Homo sapiens: one gene and its partners. The protein of the gene in region 4 interacts with the protein of the main gene of each other region in a pairwise test. Each region holds a gene or a part of one and is shown on either strand. Other genes may lie near its edges.

Region 1 (6,235 bases), on a different chromosome or scaffold from region 4:
AGGAGGCCTGGCCTGAGCCAGGTTGGAGCTTAAATTGCTGTTGGCTCCTGCCTGGTGGAACAAGGGGGTCATAGAAACCAGGGCTGATGGGCACCCCCCAGCCCCTGGGAGCTCTGCTCATGACCGCTCACAGGGTACCGAGTCTTTGCCTTTTGTGTGTGCGCATGCTGCCCTCTTAACTGCTTTTAGTATTCAGAAAGGTTCCATTTATGTTTTACTCCTGAAAGTGAAACCCTCTTAGGCAACTTGTTTCATATTCTGGGCATTTTAGTAGCTACAGTATTTTGCATTTAAAATGTAATTACTCTTAGTATTGTACAGCCCTATAATGTATGAGAACTAGTTTCACATCCTTTGAAACTAATCTCTTTCATTGGGGAGGATACAACTTTTGACTTTACACAGGTGGACTTTGAATCCATTTTTATAGAATTTTTTTCCACTGTAACTTGACCTATATTATGCAAGAAAATCCCAAAAATATGTTTTAAGGGAGACTACACAGACCTTGTGATTTGGTCTGAGCTAGTTGCTGAGTTGACTGGAGCCTTATTTGAATGGATCTTTGAGTTGAGATCTTCACACTGTCAGTGAGCCCTTGGCTCAGCCCTTGTCACCTGTTTGTATGGGGACCATGTTTCCCAAAGCTCAGGTTCATCTCCACTATTGACAGAGTCGGGTAGTGGGAGAGTATAAGTGACTTGAGACAGAGTGTCCTTGCTCAGAAAACTGTGAAGCAGGGGTCTTGTTAGTTACAAAGCCAGTCCTAGTTGCATGTCCAAGGGGGTAGATTTTCATCACCCTACTAAATGTGGTATGTCACTGCTGAAGCCTTTTCCTGTTTTAGTAATATCTTAGGCACTATTGTCTTTTGTCTTCCAGAGTAACATATCTGGGCCCACCTTTCTTGCACACTGTGATTATGTGCTAAGAAAAGGGTGGAGTTGGGAGGACAATTTCACTTGAACAGGTTTCTGTTCTTCTGAGGTCAGGGTGGGGAGGATGTCCAGGTGACTTTTATGGACACATTGCAAGACAGTAAGCCGCGGATGGACTCTCACTTGTGCTTTGGAACACTGGACTCCAAAGAGCAGGTGGAACAAACTCTGGCCTGAAGATGATGGCTAATACTCAGGCAGAGCCCCGTATTCTTCCCTGACTTGGTCAAAACAAACTTCCTTTTCCCTTGATCACCCTGCACGCAGCTGCCCAGCTTCCAGTTTTTAAAGAGATGAACAGCTCTCACTTCCTGACTCAGTTTCTCTTGTTGGGTGGGGGCCTTGTGCCACAACCTGCATGGGGTGCTAGGGTTTAAACCAAGTGGTCACGAAGGATTCTTATCTCAGGGCTCTGCCTGGCCCACCTTCTCTTGGGCCTGGACTCTCCTTATCCACATCCCTGCAGAAGGTGGGCCCTATTCTCAGAAGAGTCCTGGCTGCTGTTGCCATCTGAATGCGCCCTTCCCTTTCAGGTTGACCAGCAGTGGCCTTACCTGGCCTCTCAGGTGGATGGAGGCTGTTCTCATCTGGGGCTGTCTCTTGATTAAGGCTGTCACCTGTTTGTATAGGGACCATGTTTCCCAACGCACTTTGAGTGCAGTTTAGGAGGTATCCTTTGGATGCTGAAGTGTTGGGATTTTGAGGACATGCGGATGATTTATGAGAATAGAGGGGCAGAGTTTGTGAAGTCTAGGGTTTTTTGTCCAGTGGGTTTCAAATTTGTTGGCTGTTTAAAGACCCTGTCTCCTCCCCCACCCTCCCCTTCCTTTTCCCATCAAATGCCTACCTACTGAGGCGCCTTCTCTTTTTATTCTTGAGCCAATGAGATATCAGTGTGTTTATTAATAAGGATTGCAATAGTATAGTGCTTAATATGTGCCAGGCATAGTGCTAAGGGTTTACATACGTTATCCCTTTTAATCCAGAAAACAGCCTTTGATTAGGTATTGTTGTCTCCATTTTATAGATGAGGAAACTGAGGCAGTATGACTGAGGCCGAGAGCAGTGGTTAAGACAGACTTTGGGATCAAATCACCCTAGGTGCGGGCAGGTTTCTAGGCTGCTCTAAGCTTCTACCTTGAAGGCAGTTGGGTCTGATAATAGTACCTTCTTCCTGGGGTGGTTGTGAGGATATAACGAGGTAATGCATGTAAGCATTTAGTACCATGCCTGGCACATAGTAAGCACTCAATAAATGGTAGTTACTTTTGTTGAGCTCAGCTGGTAGTTTGACCTCCGTTGGTGCAATGCCAGAGATGGGATTGTCAGCCACCACACTGCCACCACCCTGCACACAGTCTGGGTCCCTCCGAGAGAAGCACGCCAACCTTAACATCCCCTACAGCATCTTGGTGCTTCACACACCATTTAGGAGGCCACCCTAACGAGGCAAGAGGACATGGGGGTGTGCAGAAGTTCTGTTCTTAGTGAGAATGGCTGGCCTGAGAATCCAGCTCACCTCCTCTGCCCACAGTCTGGACTGCTTGTGGGAAGGCCATCTCCTCCTGTCTGGTGGTACCTCCACTCTGGGCAGGGAGGGCCTGTCTGTGACTCGCTCTGGACCCCACTTCCCGCTCTGGCCAAGGGCTGTCTTCTGTGCACATAGCTCAGGAGCCTGCAGCAGTTCCCTGTATGGGTGGATGTCCTCAGGGGCCAAGAAGAGAAGAATGGGGACAACAGAAACCTGCTTTGTAGGGGATTATGTAGACTAAAAGCCTAGAAGTTCTGCCCACATCCTTATGACGCAGCCAATCTGGAGCTTCATGTTTCCTTCTAAAAGTAGTAACCGGGTAGAAGTGGGTGACCCATTGAGGACACATGATGTGAGGTATTTCTGCCGGATTCTAGGTTAGCAAAGACTCAAATGGGTGACTCATGAATGAAGGGAGAACAGGCACAGGACTTAATGAAAAGAGTTTCTTGAACTTAGTTTTCTGAATGGGGGTGGGGAGTTGGGGCACGTGTGTGTAAGGGGAGGCTGCCTCACTTTGAAGGAATGGTGTTGGCTAACAGGATCCATGAAATTCCTAGGTCAGTTGAATAATAACTGAACTACTGGTTTGACTGTGGATTATTTCCTGGGTATTAGTGGGACCCAACAGCACATTGCTATTAATAGTATGGAAATAATGGTCCCTCTGTTTCATTGAATTGCTGAAGTAATGATAATGCCATGAACCAGGAGAAGATGGTTGTGGGGGTTTCTAGGAAGCAGCTGCTGTGACAGGCCAATCCCAGGCTTGCCCCCGAGCCCTCCTGTCCTTCTGGGTTTGTGTTTGCCTTGCCTGGTGCTTCCTCCCTCATTGTGTTGTTGAATAGACCTAGGCAGCCTTGTATCCATAGAAAGCCTCCACTGCTGGGCCGGGGAGGGGGTTGTGGTAAGGGCCCTCTGGAAATCAAGCAGAGAATGCCTTTGCAGTGGTCTCCCGGGCATTGGGCAGGGCCTAGCCTTTTGCAGCCCCCAGAGGACCTTGCCTGCATAAAGCACTCAGAAGGGTTAGCCACCTGGTGATTTTGTCTCTAGTGAAACTGTGTTTGCCGATAATCATCCACATAGCCACCTCTGTCCTCGCAGTTTGGATGCCTTTTTTTGACACCTGCGCTAGGTTCTTGTATGCTGGCTTTTCTTAAAGGAACAGCAGAGTAGAAAAGAGGTTGAGAATGTTTTCTAGCAGGCAGAATGTGCATACATGTTTTCATGAGTGTCCTTTGGGTGCTGTTTCTTTTAAATCCTCTGTGCACAGGGCTCTGGCCTTTAGTAAACTGTTTTTCTGTCTTACGTCATGCTGACTGGGTGCTAGGGGCTGATTACAAAGGGGAAGAGTTGAACAGACATCAGGGGCCGATGAAACCAAAGGACTAGGAGTCAGGAGAACAAGTCAGGGATTAGGAGACAGCGGTTTGGTTTATTGTTATCCAGCTGGAGGACTCCTAGGGGCAGCAGCAGGAGGAATACCAGGGCCACGGAGGGGCCAGGAGTCTCACAGTGGAGGGCAGACTCTAACAGATGCCAGCTGAACGCTCGCTGGCCCTGGATGTCATACGAGTTGGGGACCAGAAATCTGGGCTCAGAGAACCCGTCCAGGGAGATTTGAAGCCATGGGTTATCTTCTAGAGTTGATACTGATAATATATTTTAATTTTTATTGATGTTTAATACCTTCTGAAACAGGAGGGTAAGATCAGATGGGAAGCCCCTCTGTTGAAGGATCTTGGGAACCTTGGTGGTTTTTTTTTTTTTTTTGGTTTTTTTTTTTTGATCGAGCTGTGGACATCCTTCTTAATTCGATTCTGAGGATTTGTTTAACTAAAAAGTTCCCAAACACAGAAAGGGCCTCCCCACCTGCTTTGGGGAGCTGTCTGTGCTGGGAGTGCCAGGCATCCCATGGGACCCATCACTGCCAGTGTCTGTGCCTCCCAGAGGTCAGCCGTGTCTGCCCTGGCTCTGTCTCCTCTGTGACAGGGCAGAGCATTTCTGGTCAGTTTCTCCATGGTGCCTCCCACCCCTTTGTAAAGTGGATGGACATGATGGAATTCAGTTGTCTCACCCTGATAGCCTGGGTGTTGATATTCACTTTACCCGCACTCAGACACAGGCGACCTTGAAGCAGTTCTCGGTGTGTAGAGTCCACGTGACAGTCCCCACAGCCTCCCCAGATAGCTGTGTGCCTGTGCGCTACTGCTGTGCCATTTTCCCAACTTGGCGTTTCACTAAATGCAGCTGATCTCTCTCTCTGTGCACTCGTGATCCATGTTGAACAATACATGTAGGTTCTTTTTCCACGCAATGTAAGAACATGATATACTGTACGTTGGAAAGCATTTACCTTATTTATATACCTGAATGTTCCTACTACACAAATAAACATATATTAAATTCTAGATCATGTGTGGTTTTCGATGGTGGGGGTGGCGGAAGGCCAGGGGTGTGGACGTTTGGTTGCTTATGTGGAGCCAGCATTATTTCCCAGGATGCTGCTGACCACCGCTTGCTTCTAGAGACTCCCTCTGTCCTTGGCCTTGGCAACCTGCCCCCCCGGCTTTCCTCCTGCCCTTGGTTGCTCCTCCTCGGTCTTCTTTCTGGGTGTCTCTTTTCTGGGCCATCCCTTGGGTGGTGGCATTCTGCCTGAGGCTCTCTTTCGCCCACTGAATTCTCCCCTCTAGGTGTTCCCACCCCCTCCCAGGATCCTGATCACCACACTCATTTCAACACTTCCCAAGTCCATGTCTCTAGCCCAAGTGGGCCTGCATTTCCAGCTGCCTGTGAGGCCTCTCACACAGACTTTGCATGATAAAACCCAAACCTATGACCCATGTCCTGAGTCCTGTGTTCTCTAACTACCCATGTGTTCTGTCACACAAGCCAGTAACTGGAGTGATCTCATCAGTCACCCAAGCCTGCCCGTTCTGCCTTCCAAACATCCTCGGAATCATCCTTACTGCCAGCCTTCTGGGCCAGGCCCCATCTCCTGCCAGGATTTCTAAGGCAGCCTCTAGCCCTCTCCCTACAGCCTGGCCACCTCTCTAATCCATTTCTTGCATGATAGCTGGGATGAGCTCTCTGCTTGGAACCCTTTGGGTCTTGAGGTTAAAGTTCAGACTTGGTAACGAGGCTTCTGGGGCCATCTGTGAGCTGGCCAGTGCCTGACCCACGCATTCGGGCCCTGCCTTCACAGCCACAGCTGCCGCTTGTCCTTCCTTGTTCCAGGTGTGCGCCTGTCCCGGGCCCTGGCGTGGGCCCTCTGCCCAGTTTTTTTCCTTTCCCAGCTCTTCGTCAGCCTGCCTAACTCCTCTTTTCCTAGCAGTTCTCACCGTCAACAGCACTTCCTTGGGGAGGCCTTATGTTGTCTCCTCACTGTGTGTCTCCTGCCCCAGGACAGAAGGGTCTGAACTCCTGGGAGCCAGCAGGCCAGCCTTACCAGGGCAAATGTCTGAGGCCAGTGGGACCTCTAGATTGATTACCTTTTGGACAGGGGCCTCTGCCATTTTCACCCATAGGAAAGCTACTACCATTGGAATTTCCTCAGTGAATTGCTCGCCAACATTCAAGATGCAGAAAAACCCACTGCATTCACTTACTTTCCTAAACCCCACAAAATCTGACTGCAAGCCACCAGTTTCCAAGACTGATGGGAAAACCAACATGAGTCGTTTTCCCTGGCTGCTTTGCTCCCTTTTGTTGCACCAGGAGCCGAGGGCTCACATGTTGCTGAAGTGGTGAGGGTCCCTGGGCTCAA
Region 2 (7,743 bases), on a different chromosome or scaffold from region 4:
CTGGCCACTGGATGGGCTCATTGCTAGTGTGGTATCACTGCTTCTAGACTGTCCACAGTAAGGGTGTTTATGTATGTGTATAGGTACAGAAACGCTTGTGTATCTACACCTATCTGTGTATTCATGCTGAGATCTGCAATTCCAGTACAAATGCCATAGGATTCATTCTAATCTCTCCTTTTCATATTTGCAATTCCCTTAAGCAGGGAGAAACCTCACACTCCCTTACCTTCAGTGTTTTTGCTTTTGCTCATTAACACAAACTTTATTGGCTTTATCCCTGTTGTCTTACTGGCCCCACCTATATAAGTTCTCTGTGCCCAGGTCTTTGTCTTAAGGTCTGCCTTAGGGAAACCCAAACGCAGATAGCTCCCAGCAGTTTCCATTGTTAAATTCGTTTCGTAGGATATATTCACTTTGGCCAAGGACTACACCCTTCTTTTGGTAGCTGTGTAGCTGTGTATTGCTTGGCATGTTTTGTGGACCTGCACTCAATAACTACTTGCTGAATAACTGATAGGTTTTGAGAAAATTTTTAGTATTTACCAAGAATCTAAGTTTTTAGTAAGTTAAATTAGAGGAAATTCTATGGTATTTTTCACCACAGCTTATGAGATTAATTTTCTGTTTGCACGCCTATTAGGTTCAAGTTTGGGACACACATGCACAAAGGTCTGAACACCCTTTGAAAAAAAAAGTGAGTTTTGTTTTTGTTTTGATGTGGAGTCTTGTTCTGCCACCCAGGCTGGAGTGCAGTGGTGCGATCTCAGCTCACTGCAACCTCTGCCTCCCAGGTTCAAACAATTCTCCTGCCTCAGCCTCCTGAGTAACTGGGATTATAGGCACCCACCCCTATGCCTGGATAATTTTTATATTTTTAGTAGAGACTATTATAAAGACATTATAAAAATGTTTGTATGTTTAGTAGAGACAGGGTTTCACCATGTCTCTCACATTCAGTAGAGATGGGGTTTCATCATGTTGACCAGGCTGGTCTCGAACTCGTTACCTCAAGTGATCCTCCCATCTCGGCCTCCCAAAGTGTTGGGATTACAGGCGTGAGCCACAGTGCCCAGCCAAGCCTGAACACCCTTTGGAAAATTTAACCTAGGTACTAAAACTTGTGAAAATGAGCCATAAATTGGGTTTATTTCTAAAAAATAGCTTCACACTTCCTTGGTGTTTTTGTTGGGGAATCACCTGTCTGTCGAATGACTAGTACTACTGTGCACTTCCATAATCCTCAGTATTTCCTTATTTGCTAAATCCTAGGATATACCAAAGTGGTTACAGAATTGCTAACCCATACCAAGAGAGACAAGCTTTCTAAACTAGAGTTCTATATGTGTTAGCTCTAACTAGAGACAAGTTTTCCAAGTAGAGTTCTATACTTGCTTAAAGACACTCCAACATTATAAAAATACATATGTATAGTATTATTCATTGCAGCTATCTGTAATTTTAGACTTTTTGTCTGGTCTAAGTATTTTTTTCTACCTTTAGCATGGTTATAATAATCATTTGAAATACAATTCATTGTCTTGAAATTCTTAATTTTATCTTTGAAATTTGAGTTTTATAAGTAAAGTCTGATGGAATAGTGGAGCACGCAGCAGCAGCTTGCAGCCTTGGCTCACGCCTGCCTCGTCCTGCCTCCCCAGGGTGGGTTCTCAGCCCACTGCTGCCCCTGGGCAGCCTGCCTCCCTCCCTATCATCCATATGTCACTTGACTTCCATACACTTTCACTTTGGTAAACACAGTGACATTTTGAATATCCAAAGATGAGTGTCAGCAAAAAGCCAAAGTCTAGTGATCCCTGAAATACAAATGCATCTCCTTTCCGCCAGTGCCCAGCTATTCTGGTCCACGACTGCCTAAACCTTTGAGGAAGATTTGGAAGAAGATTCATTGTCTGTACTTGTGGCCATCTTGCAGGGTCCTTCCTTAAAGATAAATTGCCTCCCTCTCTATCAAGAGATTTTGGTTCTGGGAACCAAGTGAGAACCTTGATGCTCCATTATAGTAAATACAGATTTCTGCTCACCTGTTCATTTTTGTATATCAAGTAATACATTAGTAGACTGGCTGGCTGTTTTATTCCTAGGGATCAAAACATTCTGATGGGTCATTTCATCTTTTTTTTTTTTTTTTTTGAGATGCATCCTCCACCTCCCAAGCTCAAGCAATTCTTGTGCCTCAGCCTTCCAAGTAGCTGGGACTACAGGTGTGCACCACCATGCCTGGCTAATTTTCATATTTTTATTGGAGATGGGTTTTCGCCATGTTGGTCAGGCTGGTCTTGAACTCCTGACCTCAAGTGATCCGCCTGCCCCAGCCTCCCAAAGTGCTGGGATTACAGGCGGGAGCCACCGCACCTGGCCAGGTCATTTCATCTTCACCATCCATGGCAGGGTTGGCGTCCACCCGGCCTCTGCTGCCGCTTGGCCTCTGCTACTTTAGAATCACATTATTTCCTCTGAAATCAGTGATCCCATCATCAACTCTGGCCTACAAAAAACAGCCACAACCTATCTTTTTAAAGTTGCCGGTCTTCACTAATGCATCTCGCAGTGTCTTGGTGAATAGTGTGTACTATGGGACCTACTGAGAACTTAGTGTGGTCGCCAAAGATAAATCCACCCCAACATTCCTTTCTTACTAAGCCATTGGTATCCCCTTCTTCATTAAGTTAGGCTTCTCAATCTCATAGCATCCAGGCTTTTACTGAGCCTAGGTTTTGGTCAGCCAGCCAAACAGAGCTGCTCCTAGATGCTTAGGTTGAAACATTAAATTCAGACTTCACTAAGCACACCCCTGTCTAGAATGTGGCCGGATCTAATGTCATACTCACATCTTGCCTATTTAGTCTGACACCTTAGAATTCATTCCCACACCATGTTTCTATTAATATAAATTAGCAAAATTCGTATCTTACTAACTTGATACTAATTTATTGCTAGCATAAATTAACAGTAGTTTTTAGTTTGTGCTTATTTCCTCCTAAGTCAGACTTTGTGCTTGCTCTCCCTAGGAATGCTGATACCTGATTCTAGTTATGGATATGGAGGCAAGGAGAAGTTGTTAGGGTAGGTACAAGGTAATTTCATATAAATACGCATGCTAAAAAGAAATTTGAAGTGATGGGGGGATTGAGGGGCTGACTTATCAAGCTGAGGCTTGAATGGAAGGGGTGGCCACATAATCACCACAGGACTGCCTTCTGGGAGGAGAGGGGAACATGCAAAGGCCTGAGGCAGGATCTGGGGGTTTGTTGGGGGAGCCTAGTCACGGCCAGTGGACTGAAACATAGAGCTCGTGGGTGGGAAGCTGAGCAGGGCCGAGGCAAGCCCTTAGCGCGGTGGGAAACCATCAAGGTGTGAAGTAGGGGGCGCTGACAGAACTCTGAGGGCTCAGACGTGGGAAGTGAGGGAAAGAGACACCTTTGATGACTTCATTGTGTGGCTAGAACATCTGGGAGCGGGGAACTGGGATTCCACTGACTGAGTGAGGGAAGGGGCAGTAGAGTCAAGGTTTGCTTTGGACACTGTAAGTTGTAGCCGCTCGTGAGATACCCTGCGGGGCTGTTGAGAAGCAGTGGGCAGTGGGGCTAAGTTCTGAGCCAGGCCCAGCCTGGAAATGGATGTCATAAGTGCACAGGGGTCTAGGGAGGCAGAGAGCGAAAGAGGAAACAGGAGCGTTTTAGGAAAGACTAGAGCTGCCTGAGGGTTTGGATCAAAACTGCTTTAAAAGTCCTTCTTCAACAAGCACTGAGCACCTACTCCGGGCCAGGCATGGAGAACCCAGAGGTGAGCAGAGTCCGTCCTGCACTCAGTGCTGCCTGCTTCAGGCCAAATTTCCCCAAGCCCAGGCCACAGGCACTAACATGCAGATTCCCTGGGCTACCCAAGCCCCACTGAAACACAGTGGCCAGAGGCAGCAGCATGTTTCAAGTTCCCTGGGTGATTCTTTTGCACAAGAAAGCTTGAAAACCTTTCATTTTCAGTGGTCCAGGAGTAAATGTGGGAGGTGTGTGTGTGTTGCGGGGTGGAGAAAGAGAGAGAGCACAGGCAATTTCCTCTTTCCCTCTCCAAGAGCGGGGCTGCTCCCAGGTTCAGGAAAGCAGGTCTGTTCTGTGAGCTCTTGTGTGTGTGTGTTGGTGGGGGGAGCGGGGGGGTGGGGAGGTGCGGGCACGATGTCCCAGGAGGACAGAGTTTGCATTGATGAAAACCCTTCCCAGCCCTTTGATGCCTCTTTCTCACTGCCCTGAAGTTAACCAGCGCAGTCCTCCGTGCGTCCCGCCCGCCGCTGCCCTCACTCCCGGCCAGGATGGCATCCTGTCTGGCCCTGCGCATGGCGCTGCTGCTGGTCTCCGGGGTTCTGGCCCCTGCGGTGCTCACAGGTAAGAGGTGAAGGCCCTTGTCTCAGCCACCACTAGCCTCCCAGGGCCGATAACTACCTTGGGGCCAGATTCTTCAACGTTCACTGGGGAGGAAGCCCTCTCACAGGAGATGGGATGACTATTTGGGGTGATTCTGCGAAGAGCTCTTGTGAGGCCGGCTGGCAGCAGCTGTGTGGGATGGACGTCTCAGGAAATTGTTAGCAGGAGGGATAATGGCCTCTGGAGAAGGAGGACAACTTGGGGGGCAGGCCCAGGGATGTTTTGCTGTTGAGGGGGACATGGGTATTGCTCTAGCACTTTAAAATCTGAAGTCTCCCAGGTCTGGGAGGCAGCTGGGGCACCAGGCACAGGACAAGCAGCTGAGGGGCCAGAGGAGTGCAGAGCCTTGCTGATTACTTTGAAAAGCTTCCCTGCTGGTTTCTGCGACGTCCTTAGAGAATGAGGACCCAGGTACTGTCCCCATCTGGGAAAAGGCTCCAGAGAGGGAGAGAATACAAGGCCCAAGATCCCTCTGCAAAACGGTGTGGACCTCTGGACTGAGATCAGAGTGGCGGAGTCTGGGGTCCCACGAGAGGGAGGCCTCTGGCAGGCTCCCAAGGGCCCTGTGGAGAGGGGAAGACTGGCCCAGGCTGGCTTCAGAGCCTGAGAGACAAAGGGCGCAGACGGGTTACAGGTGGTCTTTGCTCCTTTTGGCCGGGAGTTGGACCAAAGGGCAGCTGGCTTCTGTGTCACAGTAGCGGGGTTCAGGGACCCTGCAGCCTGGGTCTTCTGGAGGGCGCCCGTGGATCTGTGAGAAAGGTGGACCGCAGTCATGAGAGCATGGCCTGGGGAGAGCTTCTGGGGGACGACAGGCCTGGGGAGGCCCCCTCGGCCACACCCTGGGAGGTCTGGGTGACAGCGAGGAGCACCGGAGACTATTGGCTTCTCCCTGGACGCCCAGGAAGAAGCTTGAGGCCAGGGTGTGCTCAGTCTTGACCGGGCGGTTTCTTAACCTCTCTGTGCCTTCTCGTCATCTGTAGGATGGTGACACAGCCACGCTCTGCCTCACTTGCAGGGGTCTGTGAGGCCTCGTGAGTTCAGACGTGCGGAGCTTTTGGGATGGGCCCCACATCCAGTTAGCGCGAATGTGGATTCTGTGGTCCGAGCCCCTCCCTGGCACAGGGTGGTCTCAACAGAACTCTACTTCCTCCCGCAAGCTGGGAGGGCGCCAGCCTCCCTTGTGGTGGAAGAGGCGCCAGCCTAGGCGAGCCATGCGGTGTTCCCAGGATGGGGGGAAGGGACTTAAAGGGGAAGGTGGCATCTTCCATGGCTTGGATCCTGGGGCTGTGATCTTTGCAGCCCCCTCACTGGGAAGAAGCTGCTTCTCCAGCCTGGTGGTCCGTGTGGGCCGAAGGGGAGGCCCTGGCTCCTGCCTGCTGGGCCTGGGCTGCCTGTGGCTCCTGCCCAGGTTCCTACTCCTGTGTGGCTGACCCTCCTGGCCCAGGCTGCCGGCCAGAGTTCCCAGGCCAGACTGTCCCTAATCATTGTAGGCGGGTGGGCTTCCTCTGCCACCACAGGATGCCTTGGGGACAGCCAGGACCTCACCTGGCCTCACTGCCCCACTTCCCTCCATGTGTCCTACCAAGAGTAGGCAGGCCCCCCGCAGGGGCCAGACCAGGCCTTCCCAACCCCGGAGTCTCTGGGGTTCTGGCTGTTGTTCTTGCGAGAGCGTTTGACCCCACCCCTGGGCTGGGAGCTCTGGACAGGTGTGTACACGGCCCTGGGCTCTGTGGGCTGGGGTCCTGTAGCAGACAGGAAGGGAAGGAGCGGCCTTGTGGGCTGAGGCCCAGGCCCCATCTGAGGCACAGGCCCTCCCTGTTGGGGGCCTGTGGCCTCAGCTACTGAGGTGGGAGCAGGCCGGGCTGAGCGGGCAGGAGGCCAGGGCAGGGATGAAAAGGCCCTTCATGGCCCACACAAAGGCTGTCTGTGAGCAGAGGCGCCTGGCCTCAGGGCCCTGTGGTCAGAACACACTTATTTACCAAAAGGCAGGGCGGCTGGGGCCAGTGGGGCTGGGAGAGAGCCCGTGGTGCCCAGGCTTGTGGCAGTGCCACCAGCCCCTGCTTCCCTGGGTCAGAGCGCGTAGCCACACCACATGGCTAATTCTGGTCAGTGGAGTCTGGGCCTCATTACCGCCATGGAACTTTCTTGGGGTCCTCCGTGCCCCCACCTCTTTGCCAACCTCACTTTCTGTCACCCTGGCCTATTCACTGTCCGCCTGGCACGCCGTGAGTTCCGTCCTCCACACCTTCGCTCCTGCCCCATCTCCCCCCTCCCCAGACAGGACTCCTGCTGGGAAACTGCTCTGCTCCCAGCTTCCCAGAAGGATGGATTTGGGGGAAGATGGGAATTGCCTCTCAGCTTTGCTTTCCCTTCTTACTGGAGTAAATTCTAGAAACATAGATGAGGATAAGAAGTGCCTCGGCCCCTCCCTGGCAGCGGCACCCCTTTTCCTGGTGGATCGGTGGCTGAGTGCAGGCTGTCATTCCGAGCCTATGTGTCTGCCACTTGGGCACCAGCCTAGGTTGGCAGGGAGCTGGTGGCTCCTGGGGCCCTGGCCGCTTGGGTGCAGATGGGTACTGGGCCAGCCTGTGAGGGATTCCTGTGGCAGCCAGCGGCTGCAGACCCATAGCAACTGGGCTTGTGTCCAAAGGCGCACCCCAGGCCAGACGCAGCAGCTGAAGATGCTGGTGTTCACACAGTTACCTCCTTGTGCAAGATGCTTGACAGCATAGTCTGAACCCCCGTCTTACAGGTCAGGAAGGTGGATTGGGGCATGGAGCAAGGATAGGCCCCAGCCCTCCTGATTAGAAAGCTTCATGGCCTGGCTGGACAGGAGGGGGCTGTGTACAGTGGGAGGAGGCCAGGGCAGGTATGTCTGGTGGTGGGCGCAGCAGAGACAGGCTGGGTCACGGGGGACAGATGGGGACAGGGCCTGAGTGGGGCTCCCCACTGCCCTGCTCAGAGGGTACCGTCAAGGGTGGCAGCTCACCCCTGCTGGGCTGGCCTGGGTACTGAGCCCTGCCTTCTCAGGGGCTGGAGGCCTGCCACTCCTCGGCTGATTCCCGCAGATGCCACCCGGCTCAGCTGGGCCTGGTACCCAGAAGCCCTGCCGCGGCCTCCAGATGCAGGGAGGTGCCTACCTGCCAGTCTGTCTTGGGTGTGTCATTTGTCCATTTCTTTGGACATGTTCAGGCAGTCAGTGAGCCTAGACCCTGGTGCCTGCCAGGCGGTGGGCGCACTCAGGCCTTTTACCTGCCCAGCCCCCAGAAGCCTGAGGCAGCACGCCAGGGGCCTGGGGCCTTCC
Region 3 (7,855 bases), on a different chromosome or scaffold from region 4:
CTGTCTGCACTGCATAATTGAACAGTTTATTATATCGCTACAGAATGCTATTCTAGACTACAACGCCTTGTTTACTAATTGTTTCATGTGTCTTGTCTCCTAAGCTAGATGACCACTTTCTTATAAGCAGGGACCATATTTTAAAAATTTCTTCTAACTTCCTCATAGCCCAGGTTTGGTCCTAGGCACACAGACAGCATATGATGAATGTTAGCTATAGAGATTCCAGGGCTAAACAGTTATGTGCAACCTGAATTACTAAACACAGTGGGAATCTCCTCAAGTGGGCCCGGAAACACAGTGGGCACAGGTCTCCTGTGTGCCTCTTCCAGTACCCTGCACTGTAGCTGGGCAGGTGTTAAGCTTCAGGGGGCAACCATCCCTCTCTTCAGAGACAGCAGAGAGAGGGGGCAGAGAGGTGTGATGGTGGGCTGTGGGAGGGCCATGTGGAGCATCAGTGTTGGGAGGTTTGGCCACCCTCTACAGTGACCTTCTGCCCCCATGCTGACCTTCAGAGGAGAGACTCCATCCCTCAGTGGAATTCCAGGAGCCAACCCACTCCCAGGCCAAAGTCTGGAAAATTTTGGTAATATACGTAAGTGAAAGACAATGAATGTCACATACAGAGAGAGCTTTTCTTTTTCTCTTTTTCTTTTTTTAAGACACAGGGTCTCAGTACGTTGCCCAGGCCAGACCGAACTCCTGGGCACAAGCATTCCTGCCGAGTGCCTGGGACTACAGGTGCATGCTAGCTACCACATCTGGCTTGAGAGAGCTTTTCTCAAAACTCATTTTTAAAATCTTGTCTGCTCATCAGTGAAGCAAATCAGTGTTGGCCCACAGGCCACTGAACTATAAATAGTTAGCTAAATCAGAAATCAGATGACAGGAATCTATGAATCTTTAAAAAAATAGCATATACATCTGTATGTATATACATATATATGTATGTATATATCTCACAGGACTGTATTTTTGTATATTTCCATCTACTTCTATTTATGGCTATCAGATGGATCAATTTTTGCCTCTGAAAGATACAGGAGTATTATTTCCTGGCCTGAATACTGTTAAAAATCAGGAATGGCAAAGCTCAGGCTCATGGCATGTATCTCTAATTGATCACAGTACATTTCCCACTGGGCCCAAAAGAGGCTCCAGCATCTGTCTCTGCATAGTGCTGAGGCAGCCAACGAGCAAATGATCAGAGTGGGTGTGTGAATTAAAACCCGCCTGGCCCCCTGATTTCAGTAGTGCCTGTAAGAGAGAGAGGCCTGGGCTGCTGGGGTCTATGAATTTGCTGGCAGCCCTGACAATCCACCTTCTGGGACTGTACGCCTCTGCTTAAGGCTCTTTGGAGAGAGCTGATGGCTGGATCAAGGTAGGTATTGATTCTATGAAGGGAATGCCCCAGAAACCAAGCCCTTCTCTTCCCCCATCAGGAAGAAAATGAGCATTTTAAATAAGAATTCATTCCTAAAGGCTCCCCAAAACATCCTCACCGCTCCGGCTACCAGTCCGCTCTGGTTGTAACTCTTGGAAGCTGCCACAATGGAGGCGATGAGGAGGAGCAGGGTACCGATTAAATAGTGCAGAAGTTCCTGGGGGCAGAAACAAAGCAAATAAGTGGGTAGGGCCGTCCATTTCTGGTCCGGGAAGAGCAACTGGGCATCAGAAGACATGAAAAGAAAGGGAGAGAGTGACGCTTCCTCTTCTCCCTTGCAACACGCAAATGGGATGAGCAGAGCCGCTCGCAGGCAGCCAACATGCGGGCTGACCAGGAAGAGGCCAAGCAAGACAGAAGTGATGCCGGGCAGGCAGGAAGGGAAGAGGACAGAGAGAAAGGAAGCTTCTGGTGTGAGCAGAGATAGCCACTAAGGACTCCTCTACTCCTGAGAGCAATCTGTGGACAGTGCCTTAACCTCTGGCTAAAGCTACTAAAAAGCAAACGAGCTTCTTGCAACTTCCCGGCTGGAGAGTTTAAACAAAGCTCCAGCTCGGAGAAGCAAAGTACCTTAAAGAGATATTTGCCTTTCTCTTCTGCTTCGGAGAAAGTTCTGGGCTAACAATGTGCTGGTCTTGTGTGACTGATGGGAGTGTCAGCCCACTCTGTGAATGGCCCCAAGTGTGGACTTGAGAGGTATTCATTCCCAGGGTCCCGTCAGACTCAGACTCTAGAATGAGGTCAGTGGCACTTCTGTGAAGTGCCTGTGGATGTGTGGTGGCAGCTGGCTTTCTCACTCCTGAGCCTTCCTGCCTTTTTTTTTTTTTTTCCTGTCATTCCCTCTTCTCTTTTCTCCAGAAGAGTGCCCTCCCGGCCAAGCTCTGCCAATGAATCCACTGGCAGGACTGGTTCCACCTTTGCTTCTCGCCTTGGCCCATGGGCCATGCATTTCCACCCCACTCACTCATCATGATTAATCAGCATCCTTGCAGGCCCTGGATGAGATGGGCCTTTCAGTGGCGAGGGAAAGCTTCCATCTCACCCTTTCTCTTCCCCATTAAACATCAGATCCGAGAAGAACTGAGGCTGGGGGCCACTTCCAGTGCTTGCTCTGAATCCAGGGTGCATCCATTTTCAGTTGTCTTCAATGAGAATCTAGAAATCATTCCTTCATGAAGTTCTGCCCCTTAGGGCAGGCAGCTATTAAATTTTGGAAAAGCATTCCAATTTAAAGCTGTAGCTCCTCTCAAAGCTATGTAAAATCAAAGACCCTGGTTTCTCCCTTAGTGACTAGAAAGGAATATCACAAGATAGATCACAGAGATTTTAACTGAAGAACAGATGAGTAACTGCAAGTTCCCCACCTCCAAGATTCTCAACTATTAAGACAGAGGAGGATGACATGGGGCAGAGAAAACCAACTTGAGAGAATCCTAACCGGAAGTACTTAAATAGTATCTCAGCCAAAAATGTGTGGCTGAGTCTGTCCTTCCAACTTTCACTCCTCATGCAGCCCACTCTTGTGCTTGTCCCTGAGCTTTTGTTCTCTCCTTTGCTTGTTCAGTATCTGCATCAGGTAAGCCCCAGAGGAATTTGTTCTCAAAAGAAGCAGAAAAAAATGCCATAACTTTGAAAGGGGCCTTAGAACTTAGAAACACAAAAGAAATTTCTCTCAAAATAACAGTGGGTAATAGTGTTAAGTGTGAACAATTAAACAATCTAATCAAGATGCAGAGGTGGTCAGATTGGATTAAAAAACCAAAGCAAAACGAGAAATAACTACAGTATGTGCTGTCTATGGGAGAGAGACTTTATATTCAAAGATAAGGAAATGGCACGCAAACAACAACCAAAAGAAAGCCAGGGTGTCTACACTGCATCAGACAAAATAGAATCGAACACAAAAAAAAGTTACTAGAAATAAAGAGGGACATTTTATAACAATGAAAAGCTGAATCCGTAAGTAAGATATAACAATTATAAACGTATATGCACCTAATAAAAGAGCCAAAACACATGAAGTGAAAAATGAGAAAAATGAAGGAGAAAAACAGACAATTCAAAAATAATAGTTGGAGAATTCAATATCCCTACTTTCAGCAATGTATAGAACAACCAGGTAGAAGGTCAACAAGGAAATAGAAGATTCAAACAACACCATAAAATGACTAGACCTAAAAATCCTCTATAAAAACTCTATCCAGCAAAAGTATAATATACAAATATACAATGTATAAAAGTACATTCTTCTCAGATGTACACAGAACATTGTCCAGGATAGACGATATATCAGACCATAAAACAAACTTCAATAAAGGTAAGAAGGACTACAAAATATGTTCTCTGAACACAATGGAATCAAATTAGAAATCAAGAGCAGAGGGAAATCAGGGAAATATATAGAGATTAAACAACATATTCCTAAATAATGAATGGATCAAAGAAAAAAAATCATAAGAGAAATCAGAAAATACCTGGAGATGTATGAAAATGAAGACACAATATACCAAAATTATGGAATACAAGTAAAACAGTTATCAGAGGGAGATTTATAGCTGTAAATGCCAATATTAAAGGAGAAGGAAGGTCTCAAATTAGATGATGACCTTCCACATCATCTTAGTCTGTTTTGCGTTGTTTTAATAAAGGAATACCCAAGGCTGGGCAACAAATAAAGAAAAGAGGTTTATTTGCCTCATGGTTCTGTAGGCTGTACAAGAAGCATGGCACCTGTATCTGCTTCTGGTGAGGGCTTCAGGGAGCTTCTACTTTCTGAAGCAAAGGTGAAGGTGAGCAGGCATCACACAGCCAAGAGGAAGGAAGCAAGAGAGAGGGGAGGAAGGTGCCAGCCTCTCTTTAATAATCAGTTCTCATGGGAACTAACAGAGCAAGAACTCACTTATTACCACTAGAACAGCACCAAGTCATTCACAAGGGATCTGCCCCCATGATCCAAACACCTCCCACTAGGCCCCACCTCCAACACTGGGAATCAAATTTTAACATGAGATTTGGAGGGGACAGATATCCAAACTATATTATACATTAAGACACTAGGAAAAGAAGATCAAACTAAACCTAAGGCAAGAAGAGGAAAGAAAAAAAATAAAGATTAAAGCAACATTTATTAAGATAATAGGAAAACAATAAAAAAATCAATGAAACCAAAAGCTGGTTCTTGAAAAGATCAACAAGATTGACAAATCTTCAGCTAGATTGATCAAAGAGAAAGAGAGAGAGAAGATGCAAACGAAAGAGGAAACATTACTACTGCACTTACAGAAATAAAAAGAATGTAAGAAATACAATAAACAATTGCATGCCAATAAATTCAATGACTTAGATGAAATGGACAAATTCCTAGACATATATACTACTAAAATTGACTCCAGAATAAATGATGCAATCTGAAAAGATGGTAAAATTAGAGTTCGAATTAACAATAAAAAAAATTACCCACAAGAAAAGCTGAGACCCAGTGTCACTGCTAAATTCTACCAAATAGTTAAGGAATAATTAATACCAATTCTGCACAAACTCTTTCAAAAGATAAAAAAGGAGGGAATATTTCCTAAATTATTCTGTGAGGCCAGTATTAACTTGATACCAGAACCAGATGGACATCAGAAAAAAAGAGAACTACAGACCAATATCTCTTTTAAATACAGATGCAAAAAATCCTCAACAAAATATTAGCAAACTGAATATACCAGCATATAAAATGGGTTATACATTATGGCCAAATGGAATTTACCCCAGGAATGCAAGGTTGGCCCAACATATACAAACAAACCAGGCCAGGTGTGGGGGCTCATGCCTGTAATCGCCACACTTTCAGAGGCCGAGGAAGGAGGATCACTTGAGCCCAAGAGTTCAAGACCAGCCTGGGCAACATAGGGAGACCTTATCTCTACCAAAAACAAAAAAAAAATTAGCCAGGCATGGTGGTGCACACTTGTGGTCCCAGCTACTCAAGAGGCTGAGGTGGGAGGATCGCTTGAGCCTGAGAAATAAAGGCTGCAGTGAGCCATAATTATACCACTGCACTCCAGCCTGGATGATAGACCAAGATCCTGTCTAAAAAAACAAAACAAAAAAAACAAAAAACAATGTAAGACACCATACTAATAATGGGAGAAAAACTCATCACCTCAGTAGATACGGAAAAAGCATTTGACAAAATCTAATACTCTTTTATGATAAAAACACTCAACAAAGTAATGCTAGAAGGGAACTTCAACTTGATAAAGGGCTTCTACAAAACACTCACACCCAATGTTATATTTAATGATGAAAGAAGGAATGCTTTCCTCCTAACATGAGGAAAAAGATAATGATGGCTGCTCTGCCATTTCTATTCAATATTTGTCTAATTTAGTCAACTAATTTCTTGCAATAAGGCAAGACAATGAAATAAATGGCATCCAGATTATAAAGGAAGAAGTAAAAATATCTCTATTTGCAGATCATGTTTACAGAATATCCTATGGAATCCACTAAAAATATATTAGAAAAATATATTAGAACTACTAAGTAGTTCAGCACAGTTGAGGACACAAATCAATATGCAAAAAGTAATTGGATTCCTATGCACTTGCAATGAACAATCTGGAAATAAAATTAAGAAAAAAATTGATTTAAAATAGCATCAAAAAGAATAAAATGCTCAGACACAAATTTAATTTAAAAAGTTCAGGCCAGGCACAGTGGCTCATGCCTGTAGTCCCAGCATTTTGGGAGGCTGAGGCAAGAGGATTGCTTGAGCCCAGGAGTTTGAGGATGCAGGGAGCTATGATCTTGCCACTGCACTCCAGCCTGGGTAACAGAGCAAGAACCTGTTTCAAACAAAGCAACAAACAAAAAACACTTTTACTCTGAAAACTACAAAACATTGAAAGAAATAACAGATTATCTAAAAAAATGGAAAAACTTCCCATGTTCATGGATAAGACAATATTATTAGGATAGCAATATTCTCCAAATTGATCTATGGATTCAACATAATTCCTATTATAATCCCAGCTGATTTTTGTAGAAATTGAAAACCCGATTCTAAAATTCACATGGAATTGTAACGATCCAAATCAATCCTAAAAAAGAAGAATAATTGGGAGGCTGCATATTTGCTAGTTTTACAACTTACTACAAGGCTACAGTAATCAAAATAGTGTGATAATGGCATAACGACAGACACATAGATCAATGGAATAGAATTGAGAGTCCAGAACTAAATCCATGTATTTAATGGTCAACTGATTTCAACAAGGGTGCCAATGCCATTCAATGGGGGAAAGAATAGTCTTTTCAACATATGATGCTGGGATAATTGGATATCTACATGCAATAGAATGAAATTGAACCCTTACCTCACACCCTATGCAAAAAACATTAACTCAAAATGGATCAAATACCTAAATGTATAAACTAAAACTATAAAACTCTTGGAAGAAAACATAGAAGTAAATTTTCACAATCTGAATTTGGAAATGGCTTCTTATATGTAAGAAAAGCGTGAGCTAAAAAAGAAAAAAAATAAATAAACTAAATTTATCAAAATTAAAAACTTGTGCTTTAAAGGACACCATCAAAAAAGTGAAAAACATCAGAATGGGAGAAAATATTTTCAAGTCATATAGCTGATAAGGGACTTTTATCCAGACTATAGAAGGAATTCTCACAACTCAATAATGAAAAGACAAATAACCTAATTAAAAAATAGGCAAAGGACTCGAATAGACATTTCTTCAAAGAAAATATACAAATGGCCAAAAGCACATGAAAAGATGATTAACATCATTAGTCACTGGAGAAATGAAAATCAAAACCACAGGAAATAACACTTTACACTCACTAGAATGGCTGGAATCAGAAAGTCAGATAATAAGTGTTGGCAAAGATGTTGTGAAACTGGAACCTTCATACACTCCTGGTGGGAATGTAAAACAGTGAGCCACTTTGGCATACAGTCTGGCGGTTCCTCAAACAATTAAACACAAAGTGACCATATGACTCAGTAATTCCCCTCCTAGATACATACCAGAGAAAAATGAAAATATGTCCACACAAAAAACTTGTATATGAATGCTCATAGCAGCATTATTCATAATAGCCAAAAGGTAAAAACAACCCAAAGGTCCACTGAAGATGAATGAAAAACAAAATGCAGTCTGGTCTATCCACACAATGGAATAAAATTTGGTTATAAAAAGGCTGGCATGGTGGCTCATGTCTGTAATCCCAGCACTTTGGGAGGCCAAAGTGGGAGGATTGCTTAAGGCCAGGAGTTTGAAACCAGCCTGGGCAACACAATGAAACCTCATCTCTGTAAAAAAAAAAACACAAAAATTATCCAGGTGTGGTGGCATGCACCTGTAGTCTCAGCTACTCGGGAGGCTGAGGTGGGAAGATCAC
Region 4 (7,855 bases):
CAGCAGATCCAGTGTCTGGTAGGTCCACTTCCTCGTTTGCTGATGGCCATTTTCTCACTGTATCCTCACATGGTAGAGAGCAGAAAGAGAAGCCACTCTCATGTCTCTCTGTACAACAGCACTAATCCTATTCACAGGAGCTCTATCCGCATGATCTAATTGCCTCCCAAAGGGCCTAGCTCCTAATATCATTATATTGAGGGTTAGGAATTTTGGCCAGGCGCAGCGGCTCACGCCTGTAATCCCAGCACTTTGGGAGGCCAAAGTGGGTGGATCACCTGAGGTCAGGAGTTTGAGACCAACCTGGCCAACATGGTGAAACCCAGTCTTTACTAAAAATACAAAAATTATCCAGGCATGGTGGCATGTGCTTGTAATCCCAGTTACTCAGGAGGGTGAGGCAGGAGGATTGCTTGAACATAGGGGGTGGAGGATGCAGCGAGCCAAGATCGCACCACTGCACTCCAGCCTGGGTGACAGAGCGAGACTCCGTCTCAAAAAAGAAAAAAAAAGGAATTCAACATATAAATTTTGTGGGGACATAAAATTTCAGTCCATAACAAAGTCAAAATTAATAAAGTGTGGTAGCCACAGGAAAAGACAGGTATAAAAACTATTTCAAAGACAGAAGTAAAAGGATAAAACAATGGATTGGATTATAGGCTAAAATAAGGGTGAGGTCCAAAATGACAGTAAGAGAATAGTGTTATCAATACCTAAGTGAAGAAATCAAGGAGAGCTGGCTCAGTTTTACCCAGGGTAACTATGAACTGTCAATGAGCTGAAAAGATGTCCAACAGACTATTAGAAATACCATGACCGGCCGGGCGTGGTGGCTCACGCCTGTAATGCCAGCACTTTGGGAGGCCGAGACGGGCGGATCACGAGGTCAGGAGATCGAGACCATCGTGGCTAACATGGTGAAACCCCGTCTCTACTAAAAATACAAAAAAAATTAGCCGGGTGTAGTGGCAGGCGCCTGTAGTCCCAGCTACTCGGGAGGCTGAGGCAGGAGAATGGCATGAACCTGGGAGGCGGAGCTTGCAGTGAGCTGAGATCGCACCACTGCACTCCAGCCTGGGCGACAATGTGAGACTCTGTCTCAAAAAAAAAAAAGAAATACCATGACCAAGGTTTCAGTGATAGGATGAGAAAAAAGAGATATACCTGGTAGCCATTTGTCTCAAAAGTTAAGAGGTGAAATTTGTAAAAGTTAATAAAATCACCAGATGAGTATGAAGAGGCTGAAGGCCAAAGTTGAACCTCTCTGAAGCCCAAGGGAACGTGTATACTCAAAAGTCAAAAAGTCAAAACCAACCCTAAGCTGAAACAGATGTTAGAATTAGAAAACAAGGACGTTAAAAATTATAACTGTAGTCTATATATTCCAAAGGTAGAATTATGAAAGATATTTTTATCAATACAAATTAAATTTCTTGAGATGAAATCTACTACTAAAATATGTGAGATGAAAATTATACCAGAAGATTAACTGAAGAGTAGATACCAAAGGAAAGATTAATAACCTTGAAGATACAGCAATAGAAACTATTCAAAACACAAAGAAAAAAATAATTTAAAAAATAAAGAGAGCATCAATAAGCTGTGAGACAGCTTCAACCACCCAAACACATATGTAACTAGAGTCCTCAAATGAGAAGAGAGAAGTGGGGCAGAAAATATGTGTGAAGAACAAATGGCCAAAAATGTTCCAAAGTTGATGAAAACTACAAACCCCATGCATCCAAGGAACTCTATGAACCCCAATACAAGAAACATGAAGAAAACCATATTAAGATGCATCACAATCAAACGCACAAGAGCAGCCACAGGAAAAAGGACACACTATGTAGAAAGGGAAAAAGATAAGGATAAAGGCAGATTTCTCATCAGAAACAATGCAAGTGAGAAGACAGTGGTGCAACATTTTTTAAATACCAGAAGGAAAAAACAACTATCAAGCTAGAAATCTATAACCAAGAAAAATATACAAATATTTGTATATTCCAGAGGTATGAATCAATCTCAGGGGTATGATGATGGATATGTTTACCATTTTTTTGTGTTTTTTTTTTGGACAGGGTCTCACTCTGTCGCCCAGGCTAGAGTGCAGTGGCATGATCACAGCTCGCTACAGCCTCAACTTCCCAAGCTCAGATGATCCCACTTCAGCTTCCCAAGTAGCTGGGACTACAGGCACATGCCACCAGTCCTGGCTAATTTTTGCATTTTTTTGTAGAGATGAGGTTTCATCATGTTGGCCAGACCAGTCTCGAACTCCTGAGCTCAAGCAATCAGTGGGCCTCAGCCTCCTAAAGTTCTAGGAGCGCAGGCGTGAGCCACCGCACCCAGCCACACTCTCTTGACTGTGATGATAGCTTCACCGGCTTATATACATCAAAACTAATCAAACTGTATACTTTATGTACAACTTATCATATATCACTATATTGCTAATAAAGCTGTTTTTAAAAAGTCAGTATCATATATATAGAAACAAACAAGAGAAGACAGTTCTCAATTAGTACTAAAGTGATAGATCAAATGTAAAGTGTGAAGTCTGAATGGATCCTGACTTTAAAAAAAAGCTAGCCTTTAAGAAAATAATGAAATTTTGAATGCAAATTGTACATTAGATGATACCATGGAATCACTGCTAATTGGCTTAGGTAGGATAATGGTAGTTTGGTTACATAGGAGAATATCCTCATTCTTAGATTCATGCTGAAGCATTAGGGTTAAAGTGTCATGTCAGCAATTTACTTTCAAATGATTCAAGCGGGATAGGTATATATGTGGAAGAAAAAAAGTCAATGTGGCAAAATATTAACAACTTGTTTCTAAGGAAAGAGTATATGGATGTCAGTTATATTATTCTTTCAATACTTTCTGCTTCATATTTTTCATAATAAAACAAGGGGAAAAAGATTAGCATATCTATATGGAAAAAATATCACAAACAGATAAAATACAAATAAGAAAAACACTCTAACACATGACAAAAATAGAGCTACTTTGTTTTATATGTAAAATAACTTTACAATCTGGAAGAAAAACATGAATAATTTTTTAAAGTAGGCAAAAATCACAAAATGACAACAGAAAATATGTAAATTACCCCCCAGAAAACCTCTAAAAATATACCCAACTTGTCATAATTAGAGAAATGCAAAACAAAATGATGTGATACCATTTTTCACCTGTTGGATAAGTTTTTTCTTTGATAAAAACTACTCTTGGTAAGAAATAACTGATGAAAACATATGCTCTCATATACTGTCAAATTGTATATTAGGTCGACCTTTTGGATGGTAATTTGGCAAAAAAAAATTTGAACTTTTATTTAGAATTTAAATTTAAAACATGCATACTCTTTGACCTAGCAATTCCATTTCTAAGAATATATACTACACATGAGGGGCCAGCCAACTTTGTCTTAAAGAGTCAGGCAGTAAATTATTTTCAGCTTTGTGAGCCATTGTGAAATGGTGTTACAACCATTTCATTCATCTACTCTAGTTTGAAAGCAGCCATAGACAACATACAAACAAATGGGTATGGCTGTGTTCCAATACAATTTTATTTACAAACAAGGTGCCCAACTATGGGCCATAGCAATCCCTACTATGTATTAAATTCTGAACAACACAAAGATATAGTTTATTACAGCACTACTTGTAACAGCCAAAAAACTGCAAATAACTATGTATTAATAAGGCACTTCATTCATAACTAATTATATATTAATAGGGCACTTAATTCATAACTAAATGTACATTGTAGGACACTTGATAATTCACAGTAAATCAACACAATGAAATGTGCAAATGTTTAAAAAAAGGTGACATTTATCTAAAATTATAGGAAAAAATCTCCAGGATAAGTTATTAAGTGGAAAAAAAATGCTGAGCATTATCTATAGGATACAGTATAAGAGAAGAAAAAATGATACATATGCATTAATTTTTCTGATTTTCTGTATGGATACACACGAAACAGTACTTACACCTGGAGAGTTGGACTACTGGGTCGGAGTTGAAGAAAATTTTACTTTTAATTTTATAACCTTTCCCATTTTTTACCATGAGCATGTAACTTTTGTAACTACTTTTATAATAAAATGAAATAAATGAAGTGGCACAGTGAAATTTAATATATGCTATGTGAATGAATAATAAACTAGGTAAGTTTCATCAAATGGGCATATGGGAATAAAAGCCAGTTCTAAAGCAATTACAAAGTAATGCTGCTGATAAAAGTGGACTGTGTAAAGGTAAACAGTGTCACAGCAACCATTACACATTGCAGGTTGACTCTCCAATATTCTTTCCCGTAGATCCGAGGTCAAGTTTCAAACTGTCTAAACTAATACATGGTAATGGCATCCTTCTGCCAAATGACTGGTTCAGGAGCTGCCAGCCCTAAGTTAAAGTTCTGGAAATGCTGTGGAAAATCTGAAAATGTAATGGGGAATAAACAAGAGATTAATGAAAGCATTGTATCTAATCAGCAAACTTCTGTGACTCTCCATATCACCAAGCTAAGTGACAGCTGGGGAAAGGCACAAACAGACCACAACAATGGATTTATCCAGAAATACAACAAGAGGCTGAAAAAAACAGTATTAGGCATCAGTGAAATTCCTAATTATAAATAAGTTTGAGAATGGGTACAGACAAACCTAGAGAGAGACCTTATGAAATGAGGAAACAAGAAAGCATGTCTATGTACTTGGAGGAAAAGGGAGGGAGTCAAAGGACCAGGTGATGAGCATTATGTAACAGTATGTTTGTTAGAACAAGAATCACAGAGGAGGTTAAATCAACCAGAGACTAGTTCTGCTGGTGAAATCTCAGCAAGAGAATCACTCCTACTACTAAGATCCTAGAAAAACTGAAGTAGAGTGCTGATGTTACTGAAGCTGAAGAAGTTAAGAACAATGAGGCCATGTTGGATGGGCCAACATGAATGTGAATGAAGATAAAGTTTTCAAAGGACTCAGCTCTCTTTATTTCATCTTTCTCTGTGGCAAAGTTAAAGAAAGGCCAGTATAATTAGATGACCTGATGTCAAAAGAGAATAAGTTATCTATTGATGGTGATAATGTTTAAAATTTTCTCTGAGTTGGGAAGGCCTAGGTTCCTATCCTGATAAGTTCACTTCTTAGATGTATACCATTGAAGTTACAAGTTACTTAACTTCTCTAGACAACATTTGATCAATAAAAGTACCTACTTCAGAAGATTATTGTAAAGATTACTTGAGATGATGCATATAAAGCGTTAAACAGTGCCTGGCACACGATTGATAATAAGTATTAGTTACTCTTACCAAAAATGGTCAAGTTGTAGCAGTACAGGTCAAGTCCTATGCCAACTGCCCCTTTTTGCCTAGTGGGTTACAAGAGCCAAAGAGATAGAAAAAAGTATAGATGACTGTAGGAGAAGCCCTGTATCTGGGGAAAGAAAGCTTTTAGTTAAGGTGAAACACCTGAATAAGCGCTTGGCAAATATAAAATAATTTGCACCCAAAGGGGCAGAAATCCATGAGTATAATGGAATGATTATTGCCCTAAAAACTCTCAAACCTAAATAATGCATCTCTCTTTAAATAACTTCTGACAGTAGTGCGTGGAAAAAGTAGAGTTAAAACATAAATAAAACCAAGCTGGGAGAAAATCAATCAACCAAATACAAAGGTGATACTGGTTCACTGGTTAAGAAACTAGCATTAGTGTCTATTACTGAGGACGAATGAAAAGAAACTAGCCAGAAAACTTGGCAAAGTTTGTTTCTAAATTTATAGATGCAAATTTACCGATTATGACCTCTTTCTCCAATGTAACAAGGGGAGTTATCCGTATCTTGATAACCTTAAGTGCTATCAAAAAGCAGGTTTCACTAAGTGTCAAAATGCAAAAATTGGTAACAAGTTAATTATTTTACATTTCTGAGGCTTCTTTTCTATTCAAAGTAATGCATTTTCATTGTAGAAAACTAGAATGAAAAAGTATACAGTTGTAAGGGGAAGCAATCTCATTACACAAAAATAAAAAAAACATTTTGCATGGACTTTCAGTCTTTTGACTGCATTTTTCATTATATCATAAGGTTATATTTTCTATACAATGTATGTCTATTTTATCACATAATACATTTTTTATATCTATTTTATCACATAATACTACGTCATAAGCACTCTATCTGCTTTACTATTAACAGTTACTAAACTAAGGGTGACGACTTTCTCTATAAAGGCCTTTACGGTTTCAGTCAACTTATTTTAGTAATAAATACGCTCCTTATGTAATTTCACAAGTTTAGGGTCAACTTTTAGGCCCCGGACCATGAGCAGCTTTTCAGAACTTCATGTGCAGCCCTAGAAGCTAATGTAAAGGGAAAAACTGCCATTATATATTTGATTTATCCAATGAGTTATGCTACTTTGAAAGTAAATTTCACATATACAAAAAGGACCAATAATATTAAAAATTGTATTCCTGTTTCTATACATGATGCTAATTTTTCCATTCTACCTTTGGTCAGGTGGTCACCTCAAGATGATCTGATGTGATTTATTTTTCCATGTACAAGCTGTAGAGTCACAACGTGACATTTTGTAGAGGGCCTATAGCTGTAGATTTTCTTCTCTGTACAAATAAGTCTGAAACTAAACTTAATTACCTTCTAAAATAACATACACAATTTTATCAAACAGGTGATGAAATAGTAATACATGTACACTTTAACATTTCTCATTCTTCTATTTCCTTTTCAATGCTTTAAGTATTTTAAAATTAGGCTTAGGCACAGTGGCTCATGACTGTAATCCCAGTACTTTGGGAGGCTGAGGCAGGAGGATCAGTTGACCCCCAGAGTTCAAGACCAGGCTGGGCAACATGGTGAGACCCCATCTCTACAAAAAAAATAAATAAATAAATAAAGCCAGGTGTGGTGGTGTGCACCTGTGGTCCCAGCTACTTGGGAGGCTGAGGCAGGGGGATTGCTTGAGCCCACGAGGTTGAGGCTGCAATGAGCCATGATTGCACCACTGCACTCCAGCCTGGACAAGAGAGAGAGAGAGACCCCATCTCAAATAAACAAACAAACAAACAAACAAACATTTAAAAATTAAGATGTGGCAGGCTGGGCACAGTGGCTAATGCCTGTAAGCCCAACACTTTGGGAGGTCAAGGCAAGAGGATGGCTTCACGCCAGTAGTTCTAGACCAGCGTAGTAGGCAACTAGCCTTGTCTCAAAAAACATTTTTTTTTAAATTAGCTAGGTATCGTGGTGCACCCTGCAATCCTAACTACTTGGGAAGCTGAGGCGGAAGATCACTTGAGTACAGGAGTTCAAGGTTGCAGTGAGCTAAGTAGGTGCCATTGTACTCCTGCCTGGACAACACGGGGAGACCTGTCTCTAAAATGTATTTATAAAAAAGTTAAAAAGATGTGCTACTAACCGGCAACTTTCAGGTTTCATTTTTTTAAACAGTAAATTATATAGCTCCTTATAATATTATCATTCATATGATATAAACATCTTAAACATACTACAAATATCCAACAGAATTCAGAACATCACACATTACTATCTGAACATGGTTCTTTTTCTTAATGTCATTTGACTCCAAACTTGCAGGCAGATTTTTTTCTACTCTTTAAGAATCTAATGTCAGAAAAGTTAACACTTTTGCAGTAAACTAAAATTAACAGAAATTTAAATGTTTAAAACAATTCCAAAGAAAGGCCGGGCACAGTGGCTCACGCCTGTAATCCCAGCACTCTGGGAGGCCAAGGCGGGCGGATCACGAGGTCAAGTGATAGAGACCATCCTGGCTAACATGGTGAAAC

Evidence for each region.
Region 1: the proteins of HIBADH (region 4) and CDS2 interact in binary tests that used the Homo sapiens proteins (3 or more experiments, as listed by UniProt).
Region 2: the proteins of HIBADH (region 4) and SNORC interact in binary tests that used the Homo sapiens proteins (3 or more experiments, as listed by UniProt).
Region 3: the proteins of HIBADH (region 4) and CMTM7 interact in binary tests that used the Homo sapiens proteins (3 or more experiments, as listed by UniProt).

The regions. Positions count from the first base shown.
Region 1 is NC_000020.11:5,193,008-5,199,242, forward strand, and holds the end of CDS2 (phosphatidate cytidylyltransferase 2), read left to right. Parts: 3' UTR 1-4,880; downstream 4,881-6,235. UniProt on the Homo sapiens protein: Catalyzes the conversion of phosphatidic acid (PA) to CDP-diacylglycerol (CDP-DAG), an essential intermediate in the synthesis of phosphatidylglycerol, cardiolipin and phosphatidylinositol.
Region 2 is NC_000002.12:232,866,015-232,873,757, forward strand, and holds the start of SNORC (protein SNORC isoform c precursor), read left to right. Parts: upstream 1-4,249; 5' UTR 4,250-4,327; coding exon 4,328-4,400; intron 4,401-7,743. UniProt on the Homo sapiens protein: Plays a role in the regulation of chondrocyte maturation and postnatal endochondral ossification. May inhibit cell growth stimulation induced by FGF2.
Region 3 is NC_000003.12:32,443,200-32,451,054, reverse strand, and holds part of CMTM7 (CKLF-like MARVEL transmembrane domain-containing protein 7), read right to left. Parts: intron 1,602-7,855; coding exon 1,503-1,601; intron 1-1,502.
Region 4 is NC_000007.14:27,652,633-27,660,487, forward strand, and holds part of HIBADH (3-hydroxyisobutyrate dehydrogenase, mitochondrial isoform 1 precursor), read right to left. Parts: intron 4,135-7,855; exon of another isoform or gene 4,000-4,134; intron 19-3,999; exon of another isoform or gene 1-18.